6 separate regions of the Homo sapiens genome follow, and all the other regions are reported to be linked to region 1. The links are microRNA targets in miRTarBase. Many come from high-throughput screens and were not tested one by one. Region 1 holds a microRNA gene; each other region holds the end of a gene's coding sequence.
The links. Region 1 holds the annotated microRNA hsa-miR-548as-5p (AAAAGUAAUUGCGGGUUUUGCC, at 3,136-3,157, opposite strand). A microRNA usually pairs through its seed, bases 2 to 8, with sites in the 3' UTR of a target mRNA and lowers its output. Matches are read on the target gene's strand: a 7mer-m8 pairs with bases 2 to 8, a 7mer-A1 pairs with bases 2 to 7 and ends in A, and an 8mer does both.

Region 2: the mRNA of VLDLR is a reported target of hsa-miR-548as-5p. Seed matches in the 3' UTR shown: 7mer-m8 at 1,151-1,157 and 7mer-m8 at 2,451-2,457.
Region 3: the mRNA of SLC35D4 is a reported target of hsa-miR-548as-5p. Seed matches in the 3' UTR shown: 7mer-A1 at 2,285-2,291.
Region 4: the mRNA of YAP1 is a reported target of hsa-miR-548as-5p. Seed matches in the 3' UTR shown: 7mer-A1 at 4,378-4,384 and 7mer-m8 at 3,970-3,976.
Region 5: the mRNA of PPP1R18 is a reported target of hsa-miR-548as-5p. Seed matches in the 3' UTR shown: 7mer-m8 at 3,435-3,441.
Region 6: miRTarBase lists MCC as a target of hsa-miR-548as-5p. The part of its 3' UTR that is shown has no 7-base or 8-base seed match.

What each region holds. Positions count from the first base shown.
Region 1 is chr13:92,488,118-92,493,319 of GRCh38, reverse strand. MIR548AS (microRNA 548as) reads right to left here and starts at 3,157; the gene lies at 3,100-3,157. The region is part of intron 7 of GPC5 (glypican 5); the gene reads right to left. The region is part of intron 1 of GPC5-IT1 (GPC5 intronic transcript 1); the gene reads right to left.
Region 2 is chr9:2,652,878-2,658,079 of GRCh38, forward strand. VLDLR (very low density lipoprotein receptor) reads left to right here. Exons shown (of 19, transcript NM_003383.5): 18 at 1-72; 19 at 956-5,202. The coding sequence ends at 991. It overlaps LOC105375957 (a long non-coding RNA gene), which reads right to left. Exons shown (of 3, transcript XR_929436.3): 3 at 1-133. Among named protein-coding and RNA genes, the nearest start is that of VLDLR-AS1, 33 kb to the left of the region's middle.
Region 3 is chr18:23,293,321-23,298,522 of GRCh38, reverse strand. It overlaps SLC35D4 (solute carrier family 35 member D4), which reads left to right. Exons shown (of 15, transcript NM_032933.6): 15 at 456-2,510. The coding sequence ends at 516. Among named protein-coding and RNA genes, the nearest start is that of SLC35D4, 140 kb to the left of the region's middle.
Region 4 is chr11:102,229,249-102,234,450 of GRCh38, reverse strand. YAP1 (Yes1 associated transcriptional regulator) reads right to left here. Exons shown (of 9, transcript NM_001130145.3): 9 at 1,027-4,749. The coding sequence ends at 4,511. Among named protein-coding and RNA genes, the nearest start is that of BIRC3, 86 kb to the left of the region's middle.
Region 5 is chr6:30,673,181-30,678,382 of GRCh38, forward strand. PPP1R18 (protein phosphatase 1 regulatory subunit 18) reads right to left here. Exons shown (of 3, transcript NM_133471.4): 3 at 3,209-4,108. The coding sequence ends at 4,089. Among named protein-coding and RNA genes, the nearest start is that of DHX16, 2.8 kb to the left of the region's middle. RefSeq lists an enhancer at 1-137 and a silencer at 1,779-1,918.
Region 6 is chr5:113,022,715-113,027,885 of GRCh38, reverse strand. MCC (MCC regulator of Wnt signaling pathway) reads left to right here. Exons shown (of 19, transcript NM_001085377.2): 19 at 404-5,171. The coding sequence ends at 584. Among named protein-coding and RNA genes, the nearest start is that of DCP2, 49 kb to the right of the region's middle.

The sequences.
Region 1 (5,202 bases):
AGTGATATCTTCTAATTTCTCCGAATATGATTGTTCCTGTCAATGTATATAAATTAATGTACAATATTTAATGCTTGTCCCTCTTTAATGCTGAAAAGTTCTAATTTTAAATTAATGTGTACATGTCAATATATGAGATTCAAACATATCTCATGCAGATGAGAATTTTTAAAACATAATTTCTATAGAAACTCCATTAAAAAATAATGTCATGAACCTGTTGAGTCTGTGTTAAGAAGGAACAGCTGCACACTCAGGGCCCTGGAAGGGAGCCCTATCAGTGTGAATTCAGAAAGCAACCAACAGGCTTATTGTCATTTATTTGTGAGAGAACAGCCATTTGTTTGACATACTGAAGTCAGCCTCAGGGTGAGGCTGCTTTGTTCCACACCTATCAGATGGAAAAAAATTATTCCCCATCTTCCTGATAAGAAGTCAAGGAGAATTTTGAGACAGTCACTAGTGGATACAAATAACTGACTGGACAACAGTTGGAGATTACTAGGCATTGCATTTATAAAAAAGGCAAATTTATTTCTGAGATGCTAAAAATTGTTTCAAGATTCAACAAATTCATGAATATTCATTTTTATTCACCTGGCTTTCCTAAGGAAGAAGAACATTACCCTAGCATTGTGTTTATTTGATTGTTCTAGTTTTACTTTTTTGCTTATAATATCATCTCTTTGATTACATATTTACCAGGACATTTTTATGGTTTAGGGAATTACTTTCTTAAGAAAATTAATGTGTTACTTTTTTTGTTTTGTTTTATTTTTATTTATTTATTTCTTGATTCTGTATTTTCTCTTTTTTTATATATTTTTATTATACTTTAAGTTCTAGGGTACATGTGCACAATGTGCAGGTTTGTTTCATATGTATACATGTGCCATGTTAGTGTGCTGCACCCATTAACTCCTCATTTACATTAGGTATATCTCCTATTGCTATCCCTCCCCCCTCTCCCACCCCACAACAGGCACTGTGTGTGATGTTCCCCTTCCTGTGTCCAAGTGTTCTCATTGTTAAAAAAAAAGAAAAAAAGAAAATTAATGTGTTACTCTATTCAAAATGGTCTTAATTTTTTAAATTAAAAATCACAACATTGACATCATTAGAAATGTATATAATTTGTTAAAACATATACACACACAAAATGCTTTTCTTCTGCAAAATACTGAGTCTATACCTGCTTCTTCTATATGTATTGTTGCACAAGAATGATAAAATGAAAGGTTTTGAGGTCCAGATCACAGCATGCAAAAAACATCAAAGGGACAGAGTCTGCCTTTTGGGGACAGACTTAAATGATGTAGACTCTAGACTGAAAAGATAAAAAAAACTGTGAAGCTGAAGAAAGAATGATTCTGCAATTATGAAGGCTAAGGATATATTTCAACTGAATTCAGTTAACAAGAATCTCCTTTGAACCAACAGAGAAGAAAACTGAGGGCAAATAAAAAGAAATATTACTTGACATAGTATAATAATTTTATGAGGTTTGGTTTTCTAGTCAGAATTGACACAGTTTGAATTTGGAGTAGTCTGAAAAAAATCAACAGTTTGGGCATGTACTGCTTAATTTTTAGAGTAATATTCAGGTAGAAGACAGTACATTCGACAATATATTTCTTGTTGCTTGTCAGAGGCAAAATGCTGAAGTGGATAATCTACACGGTTGGCCAAGTGCACTAATTCTTATATTTTATTATGAATATAAGAATAAATGTGAAATCCCATTTATTCACAAAAATCTCCTGACCAAATGAATGTGAAGAACGTGCTGCCGATGTGTGTTGAGAAAATCTTTGCTTTACCATGAGAAAATATTGATCAAATATGTTTCTATAGCATCAAAACAAAAACTACCCATCTTAATATGTGTATAAAACATGAAAATGCCTATTAATTGCACATTTCTAAAATATAATAGTTTTACAAGTGTGTCAAAAAGTTGACTGAATTATATAAAGTAATTCTGGTTCTTCCTTTTCTTTATTAGTCCCTATTTTTGTGGACTTGAAGACTAAAAAAATCAGATCTTTTTTTCTGTATAGCTTGTAATTATGGAGAATGTTTCAAAACAAATTAAAATAGCACTTCACATATCAAGGACATCTCAGAATCATTTTCAAGTTTAAATTTTTAATTAACATGGATCTGATAGTAAACCATTAGCATAGGTTTAATTCTGAAATAATCAGCAATTGAGTACACATCTCCTGACAAGAAAACATAATAAATTTCTGATTTGTCACTAAGCAGAAACTTGGTTCCATATAGTAACGAGACCATCTGAGTCCTTCTCAGTTTCCATAGGTATCTGTCTTTGTTCTACCTCATTCTGTACCCCCTGCATGTGATGGAGTTGACAGTTATTCCTGTATAAATTTTACAAGGCTTCTTTCATGATAAGTACAAAGATTTCCACTGTAGTTTTCTTGCCTCCAATAATTAGCTTGGATTTATTGAACTACTATTTATACTAGTATAGGTTCAACCCAATATATCTTTTCAGTCAATTATTTTTAAGAAAATTTTTAGTTCATTATCTGTTACACGGTTAATTCCTTCCTATGTCCCTATGCTTTTCAAATATAAGATAATATTAGAATTAGTCATAAAAATGAAGAGGTGAAAAACACTTTAAAATTTACAAAACACTTTTATATCTTTTATATACGTTAGTCACTGTGACCCTAAACAGACCACTGGGACAAACACCATTTATATGTTTATTTTAGAACTCAGGATACTGAGGCTTACCAAAGTGTTTACTATTATACAACCATTAAGTGGTAGAGCCAGTCTTCCACCTCTAAAGGCTGGGTGGATACTTAATGTCCCTTTACAATGTATAGCAAGGATACTGATTAGAGAGCCATCATTTTTGATGAGGTTTTATACATTTTTCTACCTGTAAGTTAATCTCGTGTTCATTTATTTATTTGGAAAACATTAAGATTTTAAAATATGCACAACACTAAACATTAGGGACACTAAAAATTATTTCTGTTAGTGAAAAAATAGATATAATAATACAATGAAAAGTGGCAGAATCTAGACGATAATGAGATTGCTTAGGATCAGGCTGGTACAAACATAATTGTGGGTTTTACCATTAAAAGCAACGGCAAAACCCGCAATTACTTTTGCACTGACCTAATAATTCACAAAGAACCGAGAACAATTCAGCTTGGAGTTTTCGGGAAACAATGCGCTGAAAAGTTTAACTGCACATTATAGATAAATTTTTTAAAATGCACAAGAAGAGTATGTAAACAGACATTCTAAGAGGAAGAAGCACATGTTAAAAATAAAAACTTACATATAATGTTTAGGGACAAATATGTCATAATGAAGTTCCACAGAATCATTTAAAATCCTGCCAAGAAACTTGCCCTATATTTTATCCTTTTAGAAGCTGACTTTTTTTTTTTCTGTTTGCAATATGACCATATTTTTTGTTTTTTACATTCAACCAAGAGTTCCTTCCTGGCTTATGAATAGGTGAATCAAGCCTTAGTCCCAGCTCTGTCTGTACCTCCAACTACTGTAGATATTTTGTGTGTCTAGACAAACAAAAGAACGTGGTGATATTTCTTCATCCATACTGTAGGGAATGTGGAGAAAGTAAATTAATATTCTGAGTTCTTCTGAAAGTAGTAATGGCAAGCTTAATGGCAAACTCTAGGTGAGTTTCTGAGAGCAGCCCTGCCTCAGGTATCCACGTGGGTATCTCTCACTTCCTTCAGTTATCTACTCCAATACCACCTTTCGAGTAACCCTGTCCATATCCCTCAACTAAAATAACAACATCAGCACTCCATCTCATCTCACAATTTTTATGCAAATTACCTTGCCTAATTCTTCTCCACGTGTCTCATCAATATCTGACACATGATGTATTTACTGGTTTGTTTTCTGCCAGTATTCTGTTTCCCCGTTAGAATAGAAACTCCATGAGGACAGAGAATTGGTGAGTCACAAGATGTATCTCTAGCAACGAAGACATAGCCCTGCACATACTAATACTTGATAAATATGTATAGGATCATTAGATAAGTGAATGGACATAGGTAAAATGTACATGAAAATGAAGGATTTTTCTTAGTTTGGTGGTTAAATCATTATTCTGTGTCATTTCATCAGAGTTTAGCAGTAGACTAGCCACCTTGAATTTCACATTCTTTCTCTACTCCATGATGCAATGTATTGTCAAAGAGAGATGAAGAGCTTGATTAAATTATTATGTGCTGATTTGTGCATAATTGAGTCAAATAGAAAATAACTGATATATTAATATTTATATGAACATCTGGGAACTTGTATATAATTCTGTCTAAACTTGAAACCATTCCCCTGAAATTTACTTGTTAAAAAAGCCCTTTCTAATGTTTTATTTGTTAGTAACTGCCTTTATTGTCAAGCCTTTAAATGCTATTGCTATGTTAGCACATTGATACACATAGACATGAACAGTTTTCCGGAGGGCAGTTTCACAAGTAGAATTAATTTTAGTCAATTTCACTTTCAAAGCTTCAAACATTATCATGAATCAAGAGAAATGCAATGCCTGCAAGAAACCACCACCTACGACACAGTATCGCTGTGAATTCTGAGCATATGCACTCTAAATACCAGGTTTTATGTCATTGCATTTCCTGTCTGGCTTTGAATGAATTCTGCCTTACAGGACTATTAGCAAACAACAAAAATGATAGCACTTCACAAGCCAAGGAATAACTAACCTACTTAAATATGTCTTCCTTTTGGATAGATTAAAAATGCCAGCAGTTAAGCAGCTGATGTATCAGCACGTATGGCAACGGAGGGATTTTTGCAGGCATATGCACTTAATCAAATATTACTTTTCCCATCACTGCCTAGAATCTATGTAATTTAATTAACTTATGCTTCAGTGGCATTTTGGAAATGAAGTGGATCTGAAGTAAGCATTGGATAGGATCTACTTAGCATTCCATCACGGAAAAGTGATGCATAAATTTAAATCTTTCGATAATATTATGCTTTGATTTAAATTGGTTTGAAAGATTTTGGACTGTTTAGTAAGTTTGCAATCCTTAAATAATTAGTCACAGCCACGTTAGAAAAAAATGGGTTTTCATTGAGTTTTGATACTGGATTAAATTTACAAACTTATATGCCTGTACACACACACACGCGCACACACACACT
Region 2 (5,202 bases), not on the chromosome of region 1:
AAAACCACTGAAGAGGACCTCTCCATAGACATTGGTAGACACAGTGCTTCTGTTGGACACACGTACCCAGCAGTAAGTCAGCTTTGTGTCTTTATACACCATGGCTTGAAGTGAGACTTTTCAGAAAGGAGACCTGGGTGAGAGAGAGAGAGCCATTAGGATGATGGAGTTACCAAACACTTCATCTGCTACCTGGCTATTAGACAGACAGTATAGCCTGTTAGAACATAAGTCACTCAGTTGATCAGCATCTAACCCTCACCAACTGACAAGTGGGTCAACTTAAAGTCACCACTATATTAAGATATTTTTGGTTATAGAAATGACATGTAAATACTAGCATGAACCAAGTAGCTCATTACTGAACTATTAAATCCATTGCCTACTGGATATTTGAAAGTAAATTAGCATATCATATATAGGGGAGTTGGCTTAAAGTCAGTGTATTGAGTAAGATTCACTTAGCCAAAATTATTATATGCTTTGCTTTAAAAAGGTATCCCACCGCCCTTAGTATAGCTAGCTTTTCTTCCAGCAATAGTCACTCACTTGTTCTTCAGATGAAACCCAAGTGGAGTATTTGGCCTTCACGTAGGAAACAGGCTGAACAAAACAAGTATTGATCACTCCCCTCTCAAACTCCGGTGAAACATGGAACAGTGGTCAATTCTTGACACACACATGGCTTTTCACATTTTTCCCCAAGACTTATGATCATTAAGTAGAAAAGACAGAATTAGTCACACTATCTTATCTCACTACCAAGCAGGTATAGTTGAATTCAAGTTAAATGCATGAATGATACAACTCAGTATTCTTTTGTATCTGACTGACTTTTCTTCTAAGCACTCTGAGTGTTTGAATGACCAACTCAAAAGCAAGGTCCATTTTAAAGACTAGAGTTGCCATCAGTGAGTGATCACCAAGCTCATTCTATACTTCTTCTTTTCCACAGATATCAGTTGTAAGCACAGATGATGATCTAGCTTGACTTCTGTGACAAATGTTGACCTTTGAGGTCTAAACAAATAATACCCCCGTCGGAATGGTAACCGAGCCAGCAGCTGAAGTCTCTTTTTCTTCCTCTCGGCTGGAAGAACATCAAGATACCTTTGCGTGGATCAAGCTTGTGTACTTGACCGTTTTTATATTACTTTTGTAAATATTCTTGTCCACATTCTACTTCAGCTTTGGATGTGGTTACCGAGTATCTGTAACCCTTGAATTTCTAGACAGTATTGCCACCTCTGGCCAAATATGCACTTTCCCTAGAAAGCCATATTCCAGCAGTGAAACTTGTGCTATAGTGTATACCACCTGTACATACATTGTATAGGCCATCTGTAAATATCCCAGAGAACAATCACTATTCTTAAGCACTTTGAAAATATTTCTATGTAAATTATTGTAAACTTTTTCAATGGTTGGGACAATGGCAATAGGACAAAACGGGTTACTAAGATGAAATTGCCAAAAAAATTTATAAACTAATTTTGTACGTATGAATGATATCTTTGACCTCAATGGAGGTTTGCAAAGACTGAGTGTTCAAACTACTGTACATTTTTTTTCAAGTGCTAAAAAATTAAACCAAGCAGCTTAACCATGGTTTGTGCCTGTTCCTCTAGGATGAACTCCTATCCTGAGTAGTACCAAGTGTTCTAACTAAATGTGTGAGCTGTAGTTCTTGATGTTGTATAACTAAGCCTGTAATTGGGCTGGTTTCTCTTACACCCTAGCACAGTTAAAAAATGAAGTACTGTTTAACATTTGCTCCCGAAATATTTCTTACTGTGTAAAAGAAGCTAGCTTAGTCTGTACCTAGAATTCCTCTTGGTTAGAGGAGTGAGTTTCTTTTTTTTCCATTAACTTGTTTCCTGATCGAGAAACACGTGCTAAGATTTCTATGAATTCTGCTTCTTTATAGTTAAGTCTCTGTTTTCCATGTTCTGTCATTTATATAGGTCAAGGACAAGTGCCTTCTAAGGCATGGATAAGGGCTTTCTTCTTATGAAAGTCTAGACTGTCTTACTGTGAAGATGGCCAGGGAGGATAGCAAGCAATGGCATTCTTGAACAGTCTAAGGCAGGTTTCTCAGTGTGGTCCTGAGAACAGAAGCATCTGCATCACCTGGGAATGTATTAGAAATGCAAGTTCCCAGCCCCATCCCAGACCTACTGAATCAGAAACTCTGGGGGCGAGGGCTGAAACCTGCTTTCATAAGCCCTTCAGGCGATACTGATGTAAACTAAAGCTTAAAAACCACCGTTTTACTGTGACTTCATGAAGAATATAATTGCAATATCACCTAAATTTTTATCCTGGCTGGGATGGGGCAGATTCTTACTATGGACAATTTCTGGAACTTACAGTATGAAGAGCAGATGAGGAGTTTGAGACAAAGAAAAAATTGTACAGGGAGTTTAGTGAATTTTCCATCAGGTTGGCCATTACTTTCTTTCTCTAAAGTCTCAGGATGTCTGGAAGCAAGGAAAGACAAAAGACTTGAAGCACCGGGTGCATGCTGTGTGTCACAAGTGAGGTGGAGAGTTGGCTGTGGAAGGTACAGCAATTCCTCTGGAATTAAATGACCGACCAACACAGTACCAAGAGGATGAAGAGAAGATGTTTTGCGTTGCTACGTGAATCAGTGGATGACTCATATTTCACTTGCATATGAAATATAAGGCAGTTAACATCTTGTTTGTGGCTTAAGCAAGGACATTAATCCTACTAGATGAAGGGGAAGTTGGTTCTGTTGTCTTAAGGGATGCCCCCTTGTGATTTTGGTCAACTGAATGAAAAAGAAAAGATAGCCTTGGACTTTTTTTTCATGGGAGGTTTGGAGGTCAAGCATGTAGAAGGAAAAGGCTGTAGTCATGAATATAGAACTGTCTGCTCTCCACCTTTTCCTCACTCTACATTTAGTCATCACACTGAACAGGATGTGGCCTGCTGACAGTGAGTAGCTGAAGTGCCTGTTTGGTAAGTAGGTTAGCATTCATCATGAACTCTGAAAGCCATTTCAGAGTTTGGCTGCTGCTCTGACCCTGCTGTGGTACAAAAAACATGGATTTTTTTTTTTTTAACTGGAGTAATACCAAATTCCCTTTAGAAGCTTGAAGTTTGATACTATTGCTTTCCCCATTATAAGGATTATACAGTATTAATTAATTATAAGGCCCAAAGTTTGTTTTGGCAAATAAAGTATTATTCTCTATCATCATCTTTTGAATTCCTGTCCCTAGTATGTTCTTTCATGTTCTGGGTAAAATTTCCAACCCTCAAAGAGTCTAAAACGTCTCATTTTTTTTTACCACGTCCTCCCCAGTAAGAAGCCAAGGTACAACTCATTGTACCTACGAGGTACAAACTCATTTGTAGAAACAAAGTAACTAGATATTCCTATTGAAATAAGAATAGATATATTGGTGGGCCAGGCATGGTGGCTCACGCCTATAATCCCAGCACTTTGGAAGGCCAAGGCAGGAGGATCACTTGAGGCCAGGAGTTCGAGACCAGCCTGAGCAACATGGTGAGACCCTGTCTCTACAAAAAAAAAATTTATAAAAATAAAAGAAAAAAATAGTTATATGACTAAACTACTAGTCAATACAGCTTGCAATAATAGTGCATGAATGATAACAGGCCTCGGCTTTATCACCCAAAAAATAACTTGAATTCTATGTGAAATGTGTTAGGATAAGTTTGCTCTGTCTCTAGAGTTCAATGTAGAAGATAATTAAGAGGTAAAATATGAAGCTTATCATACACTAAAGGAGAATATTTGGAGTTAGATGAGCCTGTCACACAAAGTGAAAGTGGACCCTCCAGAAATTTTAGGAATTGCCACAAAGATTGATGATAGATGAATAAACAGATTTGTGGCCTCTGGTAAAGAAATCCAGCCAAGTTCCTCTGTCCAAATTTTTAAGTGCCCTTTGCAAGCTAATCTATTTGGCAAAAAAATAGTCCCAGTTGTTCAACTAGCTCCCTTAAAACATTCTAGTAGGTGTTTTAAAGCCTAGGTATCGCTGCCTCTTTAGTTCTTGATGAATACAAGGCAAAAAAAAAAAAAAAAAAAAAAAAAAAATTGAGGCTTTCACTTTGGCATTTGCTTCTGTTCCTTGTATCTGTGGAAGTCAAGTAGCCCTTCTCAAAAATGAGAAGCCAAGCTTTAAATAGCAAACTACAGGGTATTAAAAGACTAACTCTTCAGTTAAGAACACTGTAGAAATGGTAGACCAACTTAAAGTCTACCTTTTAACAATCTTTACCCCAAACCTAAAGATTCTAGGGGTCACTTATCTCTATTACGTAATCTAACTGGAATAATTTCCTAGAATTCTTACTAGTGAAATCTTACCCAAGTAAAACAATTTATTATTTTGAATCCAAATGAAAGCTATACTGTTTGCTTTCAATGGTGGCAAAAACTTGCAAAAAGCAGATATACTTTTGCTAATTTAAGTTGAAGTACTATGAATACAACCTGCTAATCTTGATCCCCAAATCTGAGCCCTTCAGTTTCATAATTGTTTTATCCTGAACGTAGTTGTGACATAGACATTTCTCAAAAGGGTCTGATACATCAAACTCCTAACAAGTAGGAGCAGCAACTAGCTAAAGAGTAGAAAGAAGCTTCCCTTATTGTGGGTGATGAGGCGGTGCCTAAAAACCACATATATATAATCCCCTGGGTATTACATATTCTGCAAGCCCTGTTAGTGGGGAGATGGTAGTGGCAATAGCAGCGATAGTTGCGTCAGTGCTAACTGCTGCTGCTGCCCGTTCTGTTGGCGGCTGCTGGCCAAGTGTGCACACTTAGCCCTGGTTGAGGTGCATTGTCTGCTGTCGTCTGTTAAGCATCTAACCGGAGTGGGAGGGCACATCAAGCGATTTCACTCTCTTAAAGAAAAGGTTTTTAGGTATTTTTGGTATTATATAGTCTCTAAGGCCAGAAGGGGCTTATAATGACTTCTCTTCTAGAATTGTAATACTAAAAAACTACTCGAGTAAATATCCTAACAAGTATGATTTTTCTTGGGAAAACTAAAAATTGTACATCCATGCTTCAGCCATATCATGGGCCTAAACTATGAGAGTTCAGAAATATATAAAAGTACAAAAATCTTCAAAGGTACTTATTTCCAAATATGGAGGGAATGAATCTGAAGAGGGAACAATGGCGTTTTTCGAACT
Region 3 (5,202 bases), not on the chromosome of region 1:
AATGTTCTGTAGTTTAAATGAAATGAAAACTGAGATTGTCACCTTAATTTTAAGAGTGTGGATACCTGTGTGATTTCCTATCCATCAGCCCAATTTGCCAACAGCACCAGAGGCCTCTATGGGATCTCTCCTGCCAGAAGTCTGTGTTTCTGCCAGAGAGCACTAACCCAGTGCATCATCCTCACCTGGTCAGGATGTGTGGGACGCTTCACCTTCTTCCCCAAGGGAAGGTATCGAGCCCGCCTCCCTGCCTTCTCACCTCCCATGTGTACCTGAGGTCTGCCCTGAGGGATAGGAGCGATTCCTGGGCTTGACCTGGAAGCATGGCAGTTCGGGCTGGTGATGAGTCTCAGTTGCAGGATGAGGGGAAGCACCCCTTGCCCTGCGTATGTGGGCGCCAGGCAGCTCAGGGGTCCCGGGGGAGTGGAGAGCTGACCTTCTGCTGTTGTTTGCAGCCTCCTGCTCGGTGCGCTTGGAGAGGCCTTGCTGGTTTTCTCAGAGCGGAAGAGCTCCTGAACAAGACGGTCAAGAGAAAGACTCACAGGCTGCTGCGGGAGAACAGCTTGTACACCTGTGTACGAGCCCCTGGTCTCATAGCTCCCTGTTGGATGTGTCAGAAAGAGGAATGCAAGGACAGTGAGGCCAGGTGGGCAGTGCCATCACCCTCACCCAAGTGAATGTGGTGGTGGCTGATGAGGCCGAGGCCCTGGTGCTTCAAGGAGCACCCTTTCTGGGGGTCTGCAGGTCACTGCAGAGGAGCGGTCTGTTACATCTTCCCATTTGGAGAACCTCTCTCAACCGTGCTGTAGCTGGTTCTGCAGAAACAGGAAGTACAGGATTTCATGGGCTGGCTCTGCTCGCCTCGACTGAGCTTCACACCTCTGGATGCCACATGCTCTCTCCCAAACACTGCTTTCAGTGCAAGGTAGTGGGCCTAAGGGGTTTGGTTGTCTTTTTTTTTTTTCATTTTTAAAATTTTAAATTTTTATTTATTATTATTTTTTAGAGACAAGGCCTCACTCTATCGCCTAGGCTGAAGCACAGTGGTGCGATCACAGCTCGCTACAGCCTTGACCTCCTAGGATCAAGCCATCCTCCTGCCTCAGCATCCACAGTAGCTGATGTGCACCACCAGACCCGTCTCATTTTTTCTATTTTTATTATTTTAGAGATGGGGATCTCACTGTGTTGGCCAGGCTGGTCTCAAACTCCTGGGCTCAAGCAATCCTCCCACCTTGGCCTCAAAGTATTGAGATTACAGGCATGAGCCACTGCACCCGGCCTTTCTCATTTTTATTTTTAAATTGACAGACGTAACAGTGCGCATTTATCACGCACAACACAATGCTTTGGGAATGGTTAAATCTAGCTCACAAATGCATTACCTCACACGGTTGTCATTTTTGTGGTGAGGCTTGGTTGTATGTTTTGTTTCATTCATGTTTTTACATCCTTGGAGTCTCCTCTGGGTCCGTCCTTTCTTTGCTGTCATGCTGGCTTGCCTAAGGCCCACCGCCACCTGCGTACGAGCATTTTAAACTCTAGAGTGAGTGACAGCCTTTTTATGGTTGGTGTTACTATTTATTTCCTGCCTCTAAACTTCTCGTGGTCCTTATAAACTTGTCAGGATGTGTGTTGCGTTGAATTCTGCATGTCCTTTTTTTGCCCACCCTCAGGTTAAGCTGGTACTAACTTATCCCCAGAGGAAACAGGGTTTATGAGCACTGACAGATGTCTTCCCTGGGCAAAAAAAAAAAAAATAGTATATGTATACACACACACATACACATTTATATTTATATTTCTTAAAGCTTTTAATCCCTTTCATTCCCTGATATCTCAGAGATTTCAAATCATTGAACACTGAAGTATATTTTTCAGGCCAGATGAAAAATTGTATTAAAACCCTATTCCTGGTCAGGCGCAGTGGCTCACGCCTATAATCCCAGCACTTTGGGAGGCCGAAGTAAGCAGATCACCTGAGGTCGGGAGTTCAAGACAAACCTGGCCAACATGGTGAAACCCTGTCTCTACTAAAACTACAAAAAAATTAGCCTGATGTGGTGTTGTGTGCCTGTAGTCCCAGCTACTTAGGAGGCTGAGGTAGGAGAATTGCTTGAACCTGGGAGGCGGAGGTTGCAGTGAGCCAAAATTACGCCACTGCACTCCAGCCTGGGCAACAGAGCGAGACAGTCTCAAAAACAACAACAACAACAAAAACCCTATTCCTTGCCTTTGTAGGAGTCAAAATAAATGAACTTCTTTTTTCTTTTTTTTATTATTATACTTTAAGTTCTGGGGTACACGTGCAGAATGTGCAGGTTTGTTACATAGGTATGCACGTGCCATGGTGGTTTGCTGCACCCATCAACCTGTCACCTACATTAGGTATTTCCCCTAATGTTATCCCTCCCCTAGCCCTCCATCCCCTGACAGGCCCTGGTGTGTGATGTTCCCCTCCCTATGTCCATGTGTTCTCATTGCTCCAAAATAAATGAATTTACACAAAATGGTCACTTGTTTCTGAACCCACCAAGAAGGTTTAAGAAAATAATGACTAACTATAAATATTTCTGTTCCTAATAGATGTTTCAAATACCTTACCACTCTGCCAGGTATCAGAGAGTTTGGGCCATTCAGGGTGACCCATGAGTCCTCCGCAAGCAGGGAGCCAGGCCCTGTAGTGTTGAATATCCACGTCATTGATGGAGACCCCCTGCCCATGGCGTCCGGGAAATACGCCTTGTCCATACTCAGCCCCATGGAGAATATAGTCAACTCAGTCGGTGGCTGTTGTTGCCTCTGCATGTGTTCCCCAACTTGTTGAGAAAAGAGAGAAAAAGAAACAACTAGCAATGGATTCGTGTATTTGGAACTTGAGTACCTTAAATTCATGTCCTTGTCTTTTCCTGGTCTCTGCTTGTCATGTAAGGTAAAAATGCTAAGAGTGACCTTAACACATATGGCTTTCAACTTACTTTTGTTGTTGTTGTTTTGTCTTGTTTGTTTCCATGAAAAATATTTATATTATTTTTTTTCTAACCTCCAGCTGATTAAACAGGTACCTTACACTTATTAATTTGGAGGAAAAATAATAGTAGCTGCCTGACATACCTTCTCACTTTGAAGAGTCTCTACTTTTTTAATTTAAATTTTTTTTATTTTTAATTCTGGGGTACATGTGCGGGTTTGTTACGTAGGTAAATGTGTGCCGTGGTGGTTTGCTGCACCTATCCACCAGTCACCTAGATATTAAGCCCAGCATGCATTGGCTATTTTTCCTAATATTCTCCCTCCCTCCCCACCCCCCGACAGGCCCGGTGTATGTTGTTCCTCTCTCTGTGTCCGTGTTCAACTTACTTTTGTTCTTCATCTAGGATGTCAAACTTTCTAGAGACTGAGGGTCAAATAGAAAATCTGGGTTTAGAATTGTCCTTATTCTCTTGCTCCTGTAAAACTCTATACAATGGAGACCAGTTCTTTTCCACTTGCAGAAAGTGGCATCTGTCCAAGTGTCATTTTATACCTGTCTTTCCAAGTGCCATTTAAGCAAATGGAGGTTCTGATGACTGCAAAGAGCCATGCAGTTTAAACCCAGTCCTCTTTCCAGCAGAACTGGCCCCAAAAGCTTTGGCTGAGAAGTTTTAGATCCTTTTTCAAATAGTTCTCTAGCAAGCCTGTATTTGTTTTCGTTTGGTTGTTTGAAACACCTTTCAGAGTCCTCTTTGTTTTTTGGTTTGTTTGTTGTTTTGTTTCGTTTGCTTGAGATAGGGGTTCACTGTGTTACCCAGGCTCGAGTGCAGTGGTGCAGTCACAGCTCACTGCAGCTTCAACCTCCCAGGCTCAAGCAGTCCTCCCACCCCAGCCTCCCAAGTGCCTGGGACTACAGGCACGTACCACTCCACCCAGCTAATTTTTTATTCTTTGTAGAGATGGGGTCTCACTATGTTGCCCCCTGCCTGTTGTTCTTAAAATCTCAGATCTTTTCTTACATTGACACCAGCAAGAGGCAGAGGATAAGGTGTTTTGTCAGTATGCTATCAGTTTCCGTCAGTTTCTATTGGTTCTTGGGCCTTTTTATTCAAGCTTTAACCACCATCTTCTATGCCCAAATTCACGTGCTCAGCGCTGAATGAAGGATGAGCCCACAGACCTGAACAGTGGAGTGGCCCCCTCACTGTAGCCCCAAGCTCTCATTTTCTGCTTAGGGAGTCTCCAGGTAAGCCCACACTCTCCCTTTATTTACCCTTGGATCCTGTTTGGTACCTGATGACCTTAATCCTTGCTGGACCTCAGTCAGAGCCTTGGGATTTGGGTTTTTTTCTTTTATTTCTATAAAGAAAGAACGTGCTTTCTATTAGGAGAGGCAAGGTTGTGTACAATGGTGTATTATTACTAATATGCTGTGGATATAAAGAAAAATAAGGGCCAGTCACGGTGGCTCAAGCCTGTAATCCCAGCACTTTAGGAGGCTGAGGTGGGAGGATTGATTGAACCCAGGAGTTTGAGACCAGTCTGGGCAACACAGTGAACCTCCATCGCTACAAAAATAAAAAATAAAAATTAGCCAGGCATGGTGGCTCACGCCTGTAAGTCCCAGCTACTCAGGAGGCTGAGGCAGAAGGATTGCTTGAGCTCAGGGGTCAAGGTTGCAATGAGCCATGACTGTGCCACTGCACTCCAGCCTGGGCAACAGAGCCAAACTCTGTCTCTAAAAATAACAATAAAAGAAAAATAAATTGTTTATTTTCTTTCCTTTGCCCTTCTTTCTGTTCTCTTCAATACCGGCAGGGGAGTGTTACAGAAAATATTGGTGTTAACCCTGGGGAGGGAGTTCTTGTAGCTTTAACCCAGATCCAGACTCCTCTTTCTGCCCACATCCAGACCACTGAGCTTGAAATAGAGAAGGGCCCACCCAGTGCCTCTAGCCCTGTGCTGTCCAGTGTGGATGCCCCTGGCCATCTATGGCTTTGGAGCACTGGAGTGTGGTTGGGCCAAATTCAGATGGGCTGTAAGTGTAAGAACACACTGGTTTCAAAGACTTAATATTTTTTAAAAAGAATGTAAAATATCACATCATTTTTCTATTGATTACATGTTGAAATAATATTTTTTATATATTGGGCTAAATAAAATGTACTATCAACATTACTTTCTCCTGTTTCCCTTTACCTTTTGTAACGTGGCTGCTAGAAAATTTTA
Region 4 (5,202 bases), not on the chromosome of region 1:
ATCTTTTTTTTTTTTTTTTCTGAGATGGAGTCTCGCTCTGTCACGCAGGCTGGAGTGTAGTGGCGTGGTCTTGGCTTACCGCAGCCTCTGCCTTACGGGTTCAAGTGATCCTCCCACCTCAGCCTCTCAAGTAGCTGGGATTGCAAGCATGCACCACCATGCCCAGCTAATTTTTGTATTTTTAGTACAGATGGGGTTTCACCATGTTGACTAGGCTGCTGTCGAACTCCTGACCTCGGGTGATCTGTCCGCCTCAGCCTCCGCCCACAATGCTGAAATTACAGGCGTGAGCCACCACGTCCAGCCATCTTTAAAGATACTCAAATCTACTTCTTATTCAAAGGTCAGGACCTACCACTTCAATTTGTGAATGTTTTTATTTATAAGCCAGTAAGTAATGCTTTTTACTAATATATAATATTCTCTCATGACCTCCAAAATAGAACAGAATATATATATATTCTCAGCCTCCCGAGTAGCTGGGATTACAGGCATGCGACACCACGCCCAGCTAATTTTGTATTTTTAGTAGAGACGGGGTTTCTCCATGTTGGTCAGGCTGGTCTTGAACTCCCAACCTCAGGTAATCCGCCTGCCTTGGCTTCCCAAAGTGCTGGGATTACAGGCGTGAGCCACCACGCCTGGCCTGAGAGAATATATTAAAGAAGTAAAACCAAAGGCCATTCTGAAAGACAGTGCCATGTTCTTATGTTCTCAGTGTCCTCTGTGCCGTCACATGTAGTGAAGTCATTTAAGAATCAAGCAGACGCAGTTCTGCTTAGACACTACCACGGATGAGGATGGTGTATGTGAAGAGTAAGAACACAAAGTTAAAAGAATTATATATCCATACTTCAAAAGTTCCAAATGTCAAGCCTAACTTAAAGCACAACGAAACTTAAGTTTAACTTGTCTTCCCAGTTACTACTGTAATCACCTTTTATTGCCAGTTCTTGTTCTATTGGAAGACCAGTAAGAAGCCAAAAAAAAAAAAAGTTTCAAATATCAATTGTTAAAAACAACAAAGAAGAGTTTAAGGAAAGAATATATTTGAACCACATAAACAAACAAAAAGGTATTACATAAGAAAAAATAATGTAACAATTTATGTAAGTACCTAACATATGAGCATGCTCTTACATCTAAAACAAAAAATAAAAAGGTAACATTGGTACTATATATATATATTTGACAAGTGTGCATTAAAGAATTCTCTAATATAAAACATTTAAAATGTGGAGAATACTTTTTCAAGATACAGAAAACAATTGTTATGATAGGCACACCCACAATTCTTATAACAACATGCTTGCGAGGATAAAATCCACCTGAGCACTCATTTCTCAGATGTACCAACGCTAGAAAAGTGTTAAGCACTGAATATTGCCACCCACTTTTGCAATGTTTGAGTTTCAACACTGATTGGTATGAATTCTGAATTACACAATTAATTACTGTTATTTTTCAGTCTTTCTGCCATGTTCCATATAGAAGGCATGTATTTAATATGAATACTTAACACAGCAACATTATTTGTAGCAAAGTCACTTCCCTGTGTTCATTTTTCCTTTAAAGGCACTACATTTAGAAAAGTTATTACAACAAATAGTGCTTTGGAAGATCTGAAACTCCAAATCAATGTGCTCCATCAACCATAAGTAGATCTAAGAAGCCCTGACTGAAAATAACACAAATGTAAAAAGTTGATAAATTTAAAGATTATAAAATTGGTTTATTGTAAAAGCAATTCAAGAATACCCAGTTAAAATCTTATCCCAATGCTACCCAATACAACCAAGAAGCAGTTAAGCACTTTTACATTAGGAACAAGGACATAAAACAAGAGACCACATCAAGGCTATGATTCAAACTCAAAAAGGGAAAGGACTCTTAGGTCTCCTTCAGGTCAGTACAGAGGGCATCGTAAGATCAAAGCACTGTGCCAGGTATCACAGTACTGCTACAACACTGAGGTATAACTGGGCAAATTAAAGTTGAGGGGTAAAGGAAGATCTCCATATTCATATTGTTTTGTGGGTGTACTTAGGTGACTGAAACTCTAGAACAGCTGCCTTTAATGGCAGCACGGTGTAAGACAAGTCTTTATTAAAGAGAAAGAAGTTTATAAAGTTCTCTATCAAGGTCCCCCTAAATCTTCACAACCCCCCCCCCAAACTTTCCCACCCTCCCCCTAAGCTAAAGCTAATCTGCTGATATATAAGATATAATCTTAATCTGTGGCTACTGGCAAATTATAGGCACTCCTTCCAAGTAGCTTTGATCTTCTGCACATTAAAAAAAATCCCAACAACATGCTATGTAATTCATATACCCAATTTTGCATTCTAGGTAGAATTTCATTACTACTCTAAAACTCCATCTGCAGTGGCCATTTCCCCCCAGACTTAATTCAAGATTTAATCTTTCTGCTGTTTTCTTAATAAAAGCCTTAGAGTCAATTATTATGAGTGATCAACCTATGAACTATTATATACAACACAGTGATTGCATTTTTTTGAGCACTGAAAGTACTTAAAATAAAACTTCTTACTTCCAACTTTTGCCCTCCTCCAAATTGAAGGGCCAAAATACTTAGATTTTGTAATTGGGGGGAAAAAAATCTATCTTCCCAAGCTGAGGCTTTTCATAGCAGCTTTTGCCAGGAGAAGAGATTTTATGCCTGTTATGAACCCTTGAAAATAAGGGCTTATTCTAGAAACATTGAAAGACCCTTAAAACACAGAGGTGCTAGCTGGTGCCACTTTAATTCACAACCAACTATTACTTCATAGCTTATATTGAAGAGTTAATTCATGCTCGTTTTGTTCCTTTAAAAAATACTCTTTGGAAACCATTATTACTCCTGTAGACACATACTCTAGTTACATCATCTCTTCCTGTAAAAATAAAGGTATAATCATGATTATCTCTATTTCTTTGCTAAATTCAACTACCAATATACATTTATTAATCTGATCACTTTTCCAGCTAACTCAAAACCTTATAGTATTCTATCCAGGGTCAATTTTCAGCATAGAAGTAGGAGCAAGTCTTGTAAGTAAGAACAATCTTGAAGGCAATATTTTAATCTAGTCGTTAATGTGTTCATTACAAATGAGAACTACAAACTAGAATTTACTTCCAAAACTAAGGCAAAGAAAACTTCCAAAGCTAAATGAAGGTAAACCACTATAAAGCTTATTTCTGTCATGCACATTATGAACCTACTCACTGAATTCCAATCGAGACTTAAAAATTAGTCCAAGGGAGAAAATAAAGCCATTTCTGGTTTGCTCCTTTCCAATTCATCAGATAATATCTACCGTATGCCCAGAGGGCGTGGAGCACTCCCCTAGGCACTATCCACAGTAATAGCTCTTTCTAGAACACTAAACTACTTCAAACATCTGCAGACTGCCCCAACCAGATTTAAACTACCAGTGAAATATAAACTACTAGTCATGTATTCTAAATGCATACAAAGCGCTACCATTTTAAAAATTAACTGGAAAGCAGGGAAACCTAAAAAAGGATACATTCCACTACCACACTATTATAAATGTTATGTTTGGGTGTGTGTATGTATATAAAAGAGAGAGCAGATAATCGAGATTTAAATAAGGTGGTAAAAAAAACCAGGAAATGAAGATTTTACCAAAACAACTACAATAACCATCCCAAGCTACAACTATTAACAGATTCACTAATATGGTCATTTGCCTAGGTTCCGACAAAACCAACCAACCAACCAACCCCCCCACCGACCCTGCCAAAAACAAAAAAAACAAAAAACCCAACAAAACAGAACAAAATGCACACCCACAAAATTATCCACCAAAATCTATATTAGAGTATGTGGCAATAATTAATATATTTATATGGAAATTGTCTCATGCCTTATAAGCTCCTAAAATAAAATCAAGGTCATTATGTGACTAATGATAGCACTAGGAGGAAAAGAAAATACTGAAAGTAAAACAGTCTTCAGCCTTGGTTTCAGCTATCTCTTCAAATCAGCATTAAGTATTTAATATCAGATATAACATTTTTGGCTTGTCAGACCAGTAAATCATGTTTTTCCACTGGACAAAGGAAGCTGAAGAAACAACTGTTGAACAAACTAAATGCTGTGACATGAAGCATCTGACTTCTAAGTCTGAGTATTTAGTTAAAATGATTGGTGAACATTTAACTGGGCAAAAGGAATGGCATCCATCATCCAAACAGGCTCACTTCCCCCAGCCCCCAAAATGAACAGTAGTTTTAATAGCAAAAGAAATAAAAAGTTTTTTTCTTTTGATTCTTTAGAGCCAACTGTGAAAGAGGTCAGCAATACATTAACAGCAGCAATGGACAAGGAAGAGCAAAATAGAGGATTAAAGTATCTTGCTGGACGTTTGTTCATCTTTTTCTGTATTAGCCTGAAAACTGCAACTGGCTTATGGAAATTTCCGGTGCATGTGTCTCCTTAGATCCTTCACAGATTTAGAATTCAGTCTGCCTGAGGGCTCTATAACCATGTAAGAAAGCTTTCTTTATCTAGCTTGGTGGCAGCCAAAACAGACTCCATGTCATTAAGGATGTCAGAACTCAAAGCTTCCTGCAGACTTGGCATCAGCTCCTCTCCTTCTATGTTCATTCCATCTCCTTCCAGTGTTCCAAGGTCCACATTTGTCCCAGGAATGGCTTCAAGGTAGTCTGGGAAACGGTTCTGCTGTGAGGGCAGGGTGCTTTGGTTGATAGTATCACCTAGTGGAAACACACAGAGATAACAAAGTCCTTTTTGAAAAGCTAACATCAGGGCTGTATCATATGAGCACAGAGAAATGCACAGGGAAAGAAAAGCGCTCCTGACTGACCTAAACTGATACCTAGAATTTATATCAGGTCAAACAACTCACAGATAACAAAATAACAATGCCAAGTTTACTTTTGCTTCAACATTGTTCAGATATCCAATAACAGCTTGATTGCTATTATGTGCTGAGCACTAAAGGAGTCATGAAAAAAATAAAAAAGCCCTTGAAAAATTATATGCAGCAGCGGGAGAAAGAACAAGTACACAACACGACAGCATCACTACCCTGTCTTCCAGATAAGCACCACCATAATAAGACTAAACATAAACATGAGTGGTATAGACCTACCTTGGCCTTAAATATACTTTGGGAAACACTAAAATAGAAAGACTGCAAGAATACT
Region 5 (5,202 bases), not on the chromosome of region 1:
ATTCATTCAACAAGTGAAATTAATTTAATGGATGCCTAATGTGTGCTCATTGCTTTCCGTCCCTGGGATATAGCAGAGGACAAATCAAAAGTTCCTTACCAAATTTACATTTTGCGGTGGGGGAGGGACAGGATACATAATAAAGAAAGTATGGAAATTTTATAGAGCCAAAAACTATACAAAGTAAGGGAGGAATGAAATTCTATTTCAGATTGGAAGATCGGGTCCATGCTCATAAAACATATTAGCATTGTTGGCCGGGCGCGGTGGCTCATGCCTGTAATCCCAGCACTTTGGGAGGCCAAGGCGGGCGGATTATCTGAGGTCAGGAGTTCGAGACCAGCCTGGCCAAGATGGCGAAACCCTGTCTCTACTAAAAATATAAAAATTAGCCTGGCGTGGTGGTGTGCGCCTGTAGTCCCAGCCACTCGGGAGGCTGAGGCAGGAGAATCATTTGAACATGGGAAGCAGAGTTTGCAGTGAGCCGAGATCCCACCACGGCACTCCAGCCTGAGCAACAGAGGAAGTCTCTGTCTCAAACAAACAAAAAAGTGACCGTTGCTAGGACTGGTTTGCCTGCAGCAGGAGTGAAGACAGGTCAGGTATAAGGGAAGACCTCTAGGCAGGAAGAAACTGGGGAACTGGGGAAAGTTGTTAAAGACAAAATCTCCAAACTAAGGAACAGGCAAACTGTGTTCTGCATTTTTGCTTAACAGCTTGAGAAAATCACTGGTGGCTGCTTATTTAAAAGTAAGCAAGGCCAGGTGCAGTGGCTCTTGCTGTAATCCCAGCACTTTGGGAGGCTGAGGCAGGAGGATATCTTGAGACCAGGGGTTTGAGACCAGCCTGGGCAACAGGGTGAGACCCCACCATCTCTACAAAAAATTAGCCAGGTGTGGAGGTGTGCACCTGTAGTCCCAGCTACTCTGGAGACTGAGACAGGAGAATTTTTTTTTTTTTTTTTGGAGACAGAGTCTCGCTCTGTTGCCCAGACTGGAGTGCAATGGCACGATCTCGGCTCACTGCAACTTCCGCCTCCCAGGTTCAAGTGATTCTCCTGCCTCAGCCTCCTGAGTAGCTGGAATTACAAGTGTGACAAGCACATGCCATCACGCCCAGCTAGTTTTTGTATTTTTAATACAGATGGGGTTTTACCATGTTGGTCAGGCTGGTCTCAAACTCCTGACCTCATGATCCGCCCGTCTCGGCCTCCCAAAGTGCTGGGATTACAGGCGTGAGCCACCGCACTGGGCCTGAGACAGGAGAATCTCTTGAGCCCAGGAGCCAGAGGTTGCAGTGAGCCGAGGTCAGGCACTCCAACCTAGGCAACAGACCAAGACTATGCTCAAAAAAAAAAAACAAACAAAACAAAAAGCTGAATTTGTTACTCGATGCTCTGCTGTCTGATTTGTTTGATCCTGCATCATACTTTTGTGATTAATTGCAGTTACCAGGCACTACTGTTAGGAAATGAAACATTGTTCTTATTAATAGCCACAAGTGGATCTACATCACTGACTTTTTTTTTTTTTTTTTTGGAAAGGGAGTCTCGGAGTCTCACTCTGTCGCCCAGGCTGGAATGCAGTGGCGTGATCTTGGCTCACTGCAGCCTCCACCTCCTGGGTTCAAGCAATTCTCCTGCCTCAGCCTCCTGAGTAGGCGGGACTACAGGTGCGTGCCACCACGTCCAGCTAATTTTTTGTATTTTAGTAGAGACGGGGTTTCATCATGTTGCCCAGGCTGGTCTCAAACTCCTCAGATGAGGCAGTCCACCCGCCTTGGCATCCCAAAGTGTTAGGATTACAGGCATGAGCCACCACACCTGGCCTGACCTCTTGAATGCATTGTTTTCTGTTTCTGAGATGGACTGTGAGCACCCCTGGCACCTCGGAGCTTCCTAACTCTGTTTTCCTGGGTCACAACTGGAAACTTTTTAAGACCTTTACCTAACAGGCTACTAATATAATCATTCTGTTTCCTTCCCTACCCAGACCTTCTCTGAACTGGCTGAGTCTTTTGACACCTGGCTTGTTCTCTTGCTAGTAAATTGAAAACCTTTGGCGTATGCTTAAGTTCAATTTGTCTCATATATTTTGTTTTATAGTAAAGGTGTGGGGCCTCCTCTGACCAGTCTGAGAGGAGCAACTTGTAGTGGTAGAAGGACTATAACTATTCAACCATATCTTTGTTAGCCTGGAGAGCTAACAACAAACAAACAAATTTTCCTGATGAGTAAAATATTGATGTTCCACATTTGTATAAGATATTCTTTGAAATGGGAAAATTCCAAATATCAACTACATGGGCACCAAAGCCATGCACTATCAAGATGGTTTTTAAACCTTTTTTTTTTTTTTTGAGATGGAGTCTCACTCTGCTGCCCAGGCTGGAGTGTAATGGCGCAATCTCAGCTCACTGCAAGCTCCACCTCCCGGGTTCATGCCATTCTCCTGCCTCAGCCTCCCGAGTAGCTGGGACTACAGGTGCCCACCACTATGCCCCGCTAATTTTTTGTATTTTTAGTAGAGACGGGGTTTCACCGTGTTAGCCAGGATGGTCTCAATCTCCTGACCTTATGATCCGCCTGCCTCGGCCTCCCAAAGTGCTGGGATCACAGGCGTGAGCCACCGTGCCCGGCCTTTAGGCCTTTAACGATATAAAATCCATTGTCTATCAGAGGGGAACCTTTTCCAGGAAACTGACTCTTGTACATACTTACTTCATTTTGCAGCAATTTCAGATTTAGTATTCGTAGCCCCAGCTCTTTAAGTAAGTATCCCTGGATTAGCCACATGGGTTGTGTCATACACTACCTAGCTGCCTTCATGGCAGCAGGCTTCTGAATACTAGAACCCTTCAACTCAAAGTGTCCTCTGTAATATTTTAACCCTTTTCTTCTATTCATTCATTTGTTGTCATTCATTCTAGAAATAATTCCGTGTCTACTAGTTGACAGGTACAGGATATTGCAGTGAATCCAGCTGATGTAGTCAGCCCTCATGGCACTTCCAGTCTAGTGGACACTTCAACTGCCCTTTCTCATGTCACCTGCTTGTCCTGCGTGAAACCCACGTGCAGCTTCCCAGACCCCTTTTGACATGTCAGTGCCGAGTTCCTGGTTCATCCCCCATCATTTTCCTCTCCCCCAGCCACCAGAGCCTCCCCTCACATACCCTTTTTTTTTCCCAAAGAAGGAGAAGCAGACGAGTTGAAGAGAACTCCATTTTATTATGGAAAGTTAAAAAACAAACAAAACAAAACAGGCAATTGATAAAGGCGGCACAATGGGGAAGGAGAGGTGAGGTGTCTCCTTAGCCACCCGACACCATCTCAATTCAGTTCAATTGTGAACCACTAGGAGAAACAGAATTAAATAACTATCAAGGGGTACAGAGTTAAGAGTTCCAGCCTTCCCTCTTGGGGAAAACTAAGGCAAAGTAATACTGAGAAAAAGTGGAGGAAGCCACACCTTCAGGTCACTCCAATGAGGAGACTGGAGGGGACAGAGGAGAGAATTCCACGCAGACACAGCAAGTAAGCGTGGCTTGTAAACCTGGGACTTTGGCAGGTGGGGCTGGGAGCTGATGGAATTTGTAAACCAGGCTGTGGTCAAGGGAGGAGGCAGGAGCTGTAAACAAAGGGGCAGTGACCTAGGAAATGAAGGAGATGTGCCTATAAATGGAGTGGGGTCTGGGCCTCCCAGAGAGACGAGTGCTTAAATCCCGAGAGTCCCCACGGGATGGTGGGGAGGAAGGCTGTGGGGAGAGTGTACCCTGCCATGGGGGGCAGGTGCTCCATCTCCACCCTCCAGGGAGTTCTGTGCCCCTTCTCAGGACTTGGCGCTCACTCTTGGATGACCTAGGATGCACCAGCACGTTTAACCCCACCCACACCAGGGACTTTGGATTAGGGTAGAAATTGGGCAATTGGCTCTGCCCCCAGAAACAGGGTGGGGAAAGCAAGTTACAAGATGTTGGTTGCCCTTCCCTGCCAGGCTCATTATCAGGGTCTGTCTGCCCTGAATCTTCCGGGCTCCAGGATCTTCAGTTATAAGAAGGAGGGAGGTATATCCCTATGTTGGAAGATGGTCACCGCCGGCAGGACTCATCTGTGGGAGAGGGGGCAATAATGTTAGAGAATGAGTGAGAGCCTCTGCCTTCTGCCCACCCTTCCCCCCCACACAAATTGAAGGGCAGTTGGCATGCAGGAAGTCCTATAATATCTTCCATATCTAAAGCATGTTACCACCAGTAACCACATCCATCACTCATTTAGCTCGGACTCTGTGCCAGGCATCCTTATAACTGTTTAATCTCACCATAACTCCAGGAGAGATTAAGTAATATGATATCCAGCTGTGGCTCTTGGTGCTTCACAAAAAATTACTTAATCTTGGCCTGGAGCACCTGTAATCCAAGCAATTTGGGAGGCTGAGGCAGGAGGATCACTTGAGGTCAGGAGTTCAAGACCAGCCTGACCAACATGGGGAAACCCTGTCTCTACTAAAAATATAAAAACTAGCCAGGTGTGATGGTACACATCTGTAATCCCAGCTACTAGAGAGGCTGAGGCACAAGAATCGCTTGAATTTGGGAGGCAGAGGTTGCAGTGAGCCAAGGTTGTGCCACTGCATTCCAGTCCAGGCGACAGAGGGAGACGCTGTCTCAAAATAAATAAATAAATAAATAAATAAAATTACTTAATATTTTCTACAAGTCTAGGAGGTAGTTTTTGGTTTCTGTTTTTTTGAGACAGAATTTCACTCTGTCACCCAGGCTGGAGTGTAGTGGCGTCATCTCGGCTCACTGCAACCTCTGCTTCCCGGGTTCAAGTGATTCTCCTGCCTCAGACTCCCGAGTAGCAGGGATTACAGGTGTCCACCTCCATGCCTAGCTAATTTTTGTATTTTTAGTAGAGATGGGTTTTCACTATGTTGGCCAGGCTGGTCTTGAACTTCTGACCTTGAGTGATCCACCTGCCTCGGCCTCCCAAAGTGCTGAGATTACAGGCGTGAGCCACCGTGCCTGGCCTGTTTGTTTCTTTTGAGACAGGTCTTCCTTTGTTGCCCAGGCTGGAGTGCAGTGGGTGGTGCAATATTGGTTCACTGCAGCCTCCAACTCCTGAGGTCAAACGATGCTCCCACCTCAGCCTTCCAAGTACCTGGAACCACAGCTGCGCACTGCCACACCTGGCTAATTTTTT
Region 6 (5,171 bases), not on the chromosome of region 1:
ATTGCAGTGCCTTAGGAGTACTCTCCTGTAAGATACACTTGACTATGTTGCAAGCAACCATGGAGCAACAAATAGACCCACTATTTGTATTTATCCGTTTTGGACTGGGCCAATTTGGATTGCTGGTTTGACTCTTAGAACCCCTTCTAATATGTGAGAGTGACCAGCCTCTAGCAATCCGGCTGGATTCATCAGGGTTAAGCCAGTAGGTGACTGGCCGTTGAGTGTTGACATCCTGGTGCTGTCCCTCCTCTGACCACTAGATTTCAGATTCTTACCGAAGAGGATGAGTGATCTTTCTTCAGAGCAGTGCTCACTAGATCTGGTTATCCAGTGGACAGGATGGTGTCACGATGCTACTTAGGATGAATCTTAATACCAATTTCCCTTCATTCCCACCTAGCAACCTGGTGGCTGCCTATGAGAAAGCAAAGAAAAAGCATCAAAACAAACTGAAGAAGTTAGAGTCGCAGATGATGGCCATGGTGGAGAGACATGAGACCCAAGTGAGGATGCTCAAGCAAAGAATAGCTCTGCTAGAGGAGGAGAACTCCAGGCCACACACCAATGAAACTTCGCTTTAATCAGCACTCACGCACCGGAGTTCTGCCCATGGGAAGTAAACTGCAGCAGGCCACTGGGGACAGAAGGGCCCATGTACTTGTTGGGAGGAGGAGGAAAGGGAAGGCTGGCAGGTAGGTCGGCACTTGGACAATGGAGTGCCCCAACTCAACCCTTGGGGCGACTGGCCATGGTGACATTGTGGACTGTATCCAGAGGTGCCCGCTCTTCCCTCCTGGGCCCACAACAGCGTGTAAACACATGTTCTGTGCCTGCTCAGCAGAGCCTCGTTTCTGCTTTCAGCACTCACTCTCCCCCTCCTCTTCTGGTCTGGCGGCTGTGCATCAGTGGGATCCCAGACATTTGTTTCTGTAAGATTTTCCATTGTATCCTCTTTTTGGTAGATGCTGGGCTCATCTTCTAGAATCTCGTTTCTCCTCTTTCCTCCTGCTTCATGGGAAAACAGACCTGTGTGTGCCTCCAGCATTTAAAAGGACTGCTGATTTGTTTACTACAGCAAGGCTTTGGTTTCCAAGTCCCGGGTCTCAACTTTAAGATAGAGGCGGCCATAAGAGGTGATCTCTGGGAGTTATAGGTCATGGGAAGAGCGTAGACAGGTGTTACTTACAGTCCCAGATACACTAAAGTTACAAACAGACCACCACCAGGACTGTGCCTGAACAATTTTGTATTGAGAGAATAAAAACTTCCTTCAATCTTCATTTTGGAGGCAGGGCTGGGAAGGGAGCGCTCTCTTGATTCTGGGATTTCTCCCTCTCAGTGGAGCCTTATTAATATCCAAGACTTAGAGCTGGGAATCTTTTTGATACCTGTAGTGGAACTAAAATTCTGTCAGGGGTTTCTTCAAGAGCTGAGAAACATTATTAGCACTTCCCGCCCCAGGGCACTACATAATTGCTGTTCTGCTGAATCAAATCTCTTCCACATGGGTGCATTTGTAGCTCTGGACCTGTCTCTACCTAAGGACAAGACACTGAGGAGATACTGAACATTTTGCAAAACTTATCACGCCTACTTAAGAGTGCTGTGTAACCCCCAGTTCAAGACTTAGCTCCTGTTGTCATGACGGGGACAGAGTGAGGGAATGGTAGTTAAGGCTTCTTTTTTGCCCCCAGATACATGGTGATGGTTAGCATATGGTGCTTAAAAGGTTAAATTTCAAGCAAAATGCTTACAGGGCTAGGCAGTACCAAAGTAACTGAATTATTTCAGGAAGGTCTTCAATCTTAAAACAAATTCATTATTCTTTTTCAGTTTTACCTCTTCTCTCTCAGTTCTACACTGATACACTTGAAGGACCATTTACTGTTTTTTTCTGTAGCACCAGAGAATCCATCCAAAGTTCCCTATGAAAAATGTGTTCCATTGCCATAGCTGACTACAAATTAAAGTTGAGGAGGTTTCTGCATAGAGTCTTTATGTCCATAAGCTACGGGTAGGTCTATTTTCAGAGCATGATACAAATTCCACAGCCTTCTGTTCGCTGGAGGATACTCCAGCCACCAGTTCGGAGGGCAGACAGCTGTATCCTAAAAGCAACCACTGAGAGGCCAGCAGTGAGGCTGCCCATCTCCAAAACGAAACAACAGATCAACTGGTATCAGTCTAGAAGGACCAGCTTTGGGGTGCTTTGATCACTATGAAAATGTTCACTGGTTTCTGTCAATCATTTGGTCAAAGTTAGTTCCTGTGATTTTTTTTTTTTTTTTTTGAGATGGAGTTTTGCTCGTCACCAGGCTGAAGTGCAGTGGCGTGATCTTGGCTCACTGCAACCTCTGCCTCCTGAGTAGCTGGAATTACAGGTGCCCGCCACCATACCCAGCTAGTTTTTTTGTATTTTTAGTAGAGACAGGGTTTCACCATGTTGGCCAGGCTGGTCTCGAACTCCTGACCACTGATCCACCCACCTCGGCCTCCCAAAGTGCTGGGATTACAGGCATGAGCCAATGTGCCTGGCCATTCCTGTGATTTTTTAGAATTTTTCACTTTTCATATAAAGTTGCATTTTATCATGAGGAAAATGTTTTGGCTGAAAAACATATGCCCCAAAAAAAAAAAAATCAGTTTTCACTATTTTTCCAGCTTGCCTAGGGAAACGTCCTCCCCTGAGCAAAGTGGGATGTGCATGGCTCTTTTTTGTGATTAAGCAGGCATCAAATGGGCAGTTTTCATTTTCACTGACACAGAAACATGTGGCTGAAGCAGGAATAAAATCCTGCCTACTGACTTCTGTCTCCATTCTTGCTCCAGGTAAAATCAGAGAACCTCCCCTTCTCTGAGAATTCCCCCAGGCAGAGGCGGCTCCAGCTCCTGTTAAGGGCCCCAGTTTTACTCATGCTACCTGACCTTAGTTTTAGTACTTTCAAATGTGATTTGGGTAAAAACTATTTTGCAGGCAAAAGTGTTAATTTTTTATAAATATGTATAATAAAAAAGCTATAAAAGTTTTTCCTTTTCTTGTATTTTTCAAATACTCCCCAAGACACAATCCTTGAAGGTGAACTAGGTGGCACTTGATTATGCTAATTGTGGGAGCTACTGAACTAAACTATACTGATTAAATTAAATGCTTGCAGGTTCCTGGGTAATTTTCCTTTGTGAATAACCTGGCGCTACCTGAATTTTTCTCTAACAAACATCTCCAATGAGGGTAAACAATGATCTTGATTCTAATTTATATGAGGTTAAAAACCTTCAGATTTCGTATTTTGAATTGTTCTCCCTAGTTTCCTCAGTGGTTACCCCCTTTTAGTCAGTAACCATCTCTGTTCAGAATTCAGTCTTTGGCTTTTGAAGAAATGGGCACAGAGCCAAAGGACCCATTTCACAGTTCCCTTGGAATATATTTCCCATTGTTGGACTGAGGCAAACAAAACCAACTGTGCAAATCACAAGCAAAAGAGACTTCTGTCCGTAGTTGCGAGTGCCATCAGTGTGAGCTTACCAGCTACAAAAATCTGTCATGGACTGGGGAACAGTATGATTCCTTATTGAAACTTTCATCCTCATCGGCTGGCTTGTCAGCGTTCTGAAGTTAATATCCATGCTGCCTGAAACAAATGTTATGTTTAACTAGCACTTAACTTTTAAAATTGCTTAATTCTCCTTTCAGATGCATGCACTAAGTCTTCTCTGAGCCTGCAGCAATATTTTAGAGGGACCTCTTCTAAGTCAGAGCCTTGACATTCTACTCCAAAAGGAAGTCCAAATTAGAGCCCATAGGCTTTTTCTTAAAAGCTGTTAAGGAGTAGTAAAGAAAGTTACCACTCTAAGGAAAACATGAAACTATCTGAAAGTCTTCTGGTTCCTAACTGGATACAGATTAGATTATTTTAAATGAGAAAAAAGTGCACCGTAGTTACCCGATCAAGATTGGACTGCCTGTGTCCCTGGCATGAATTAAAGAACCTCCATAGTTGCTTGTTCCCTTCTGAAGGTGTTTCCTATGGCCCACGAGAATTATAAAGCAATCACTTTTTAAGTCTATCAGTCAACCTTAATAGCTCTCAAGAGTTTCGATTATCAAGCTTTAAAGTGATAACATATCAAGATGACTATTAAAAAATAAACATCTCTGAAAGTGTCCTTTCCTCCATAAGGCTTTAAACAATTTGCAAATTCTTAATTGGGAGTATGTCCCAATCATTCTATTAAACTATTTACAGCTCTACCTACTTCTAGATTCAGCAAACAGAGCTACTAGTTAGAGTATTTTGAGAGCCAAAATAGTAAGAGACTTCTGTAATGGTTGAGATTTCTGCACTGACCTTAATTAGGGTACCGCCATAGGGCTACCAAAGTTTTTAGTGAGGGCTGGGGAGGTGGAGCATAAGTAACATTTTTTTTCTGCAGAAGGTGATGGCTTTGTAGAACACTATAAAATTTTTCAGGAAAACATACAGCAAATTTTCTTATCCAGTGGGAACAGCCTATTTGACAAGGAATGATATACAAGTTTGATTCACCTTTGAGCACTCTTATAGAGTTTACAGAAGAGGCGTAACTGGTTACAAAACAAAAGTTACGCCTTCACTATCCAGTTCTTAAAGTTTATCCACATCCTACAAATCTTATGTTCATGTAGGTCAGGTTAAAGTAAGCTCCAAACTTGTGGCCTTCAGAAGCATCTCCTGTTTAACACACCTGAAATTACTCTAACTTAATACATTTGTATTCTCTAAGAAATAATGCTGACTGCTGTCACCACAGCATCACTGATCTCTCAGTGGCTGTTAAAATATAAACAAGTGGAAAAAAAGTATACAAGTTGATAGCAGCTGTTCATGTATTCTTGTTTTGCTAATACCTGTGTAGAGAAAGACAGTTTCACATGCAGATCACCATACATTTTTGCTTAAAGGTTACACTGGGTAAACTGTTTGTTTATCACATTACATCTGGGTGAGATTTTGCATGTGACCAAGAGGAAGAAATCATTCAGTCCCGGAAATAGCAACTGCTATGTAAAACCACATCCTTGACTAGTACTTCATCTTTCCACAGTCATCCATCTGCTAATCAGGTGAAATATCAGCTCAGCAGAACAAAGCAAGTTATACACAAATTTCCCCCACATTCACACTGATGCC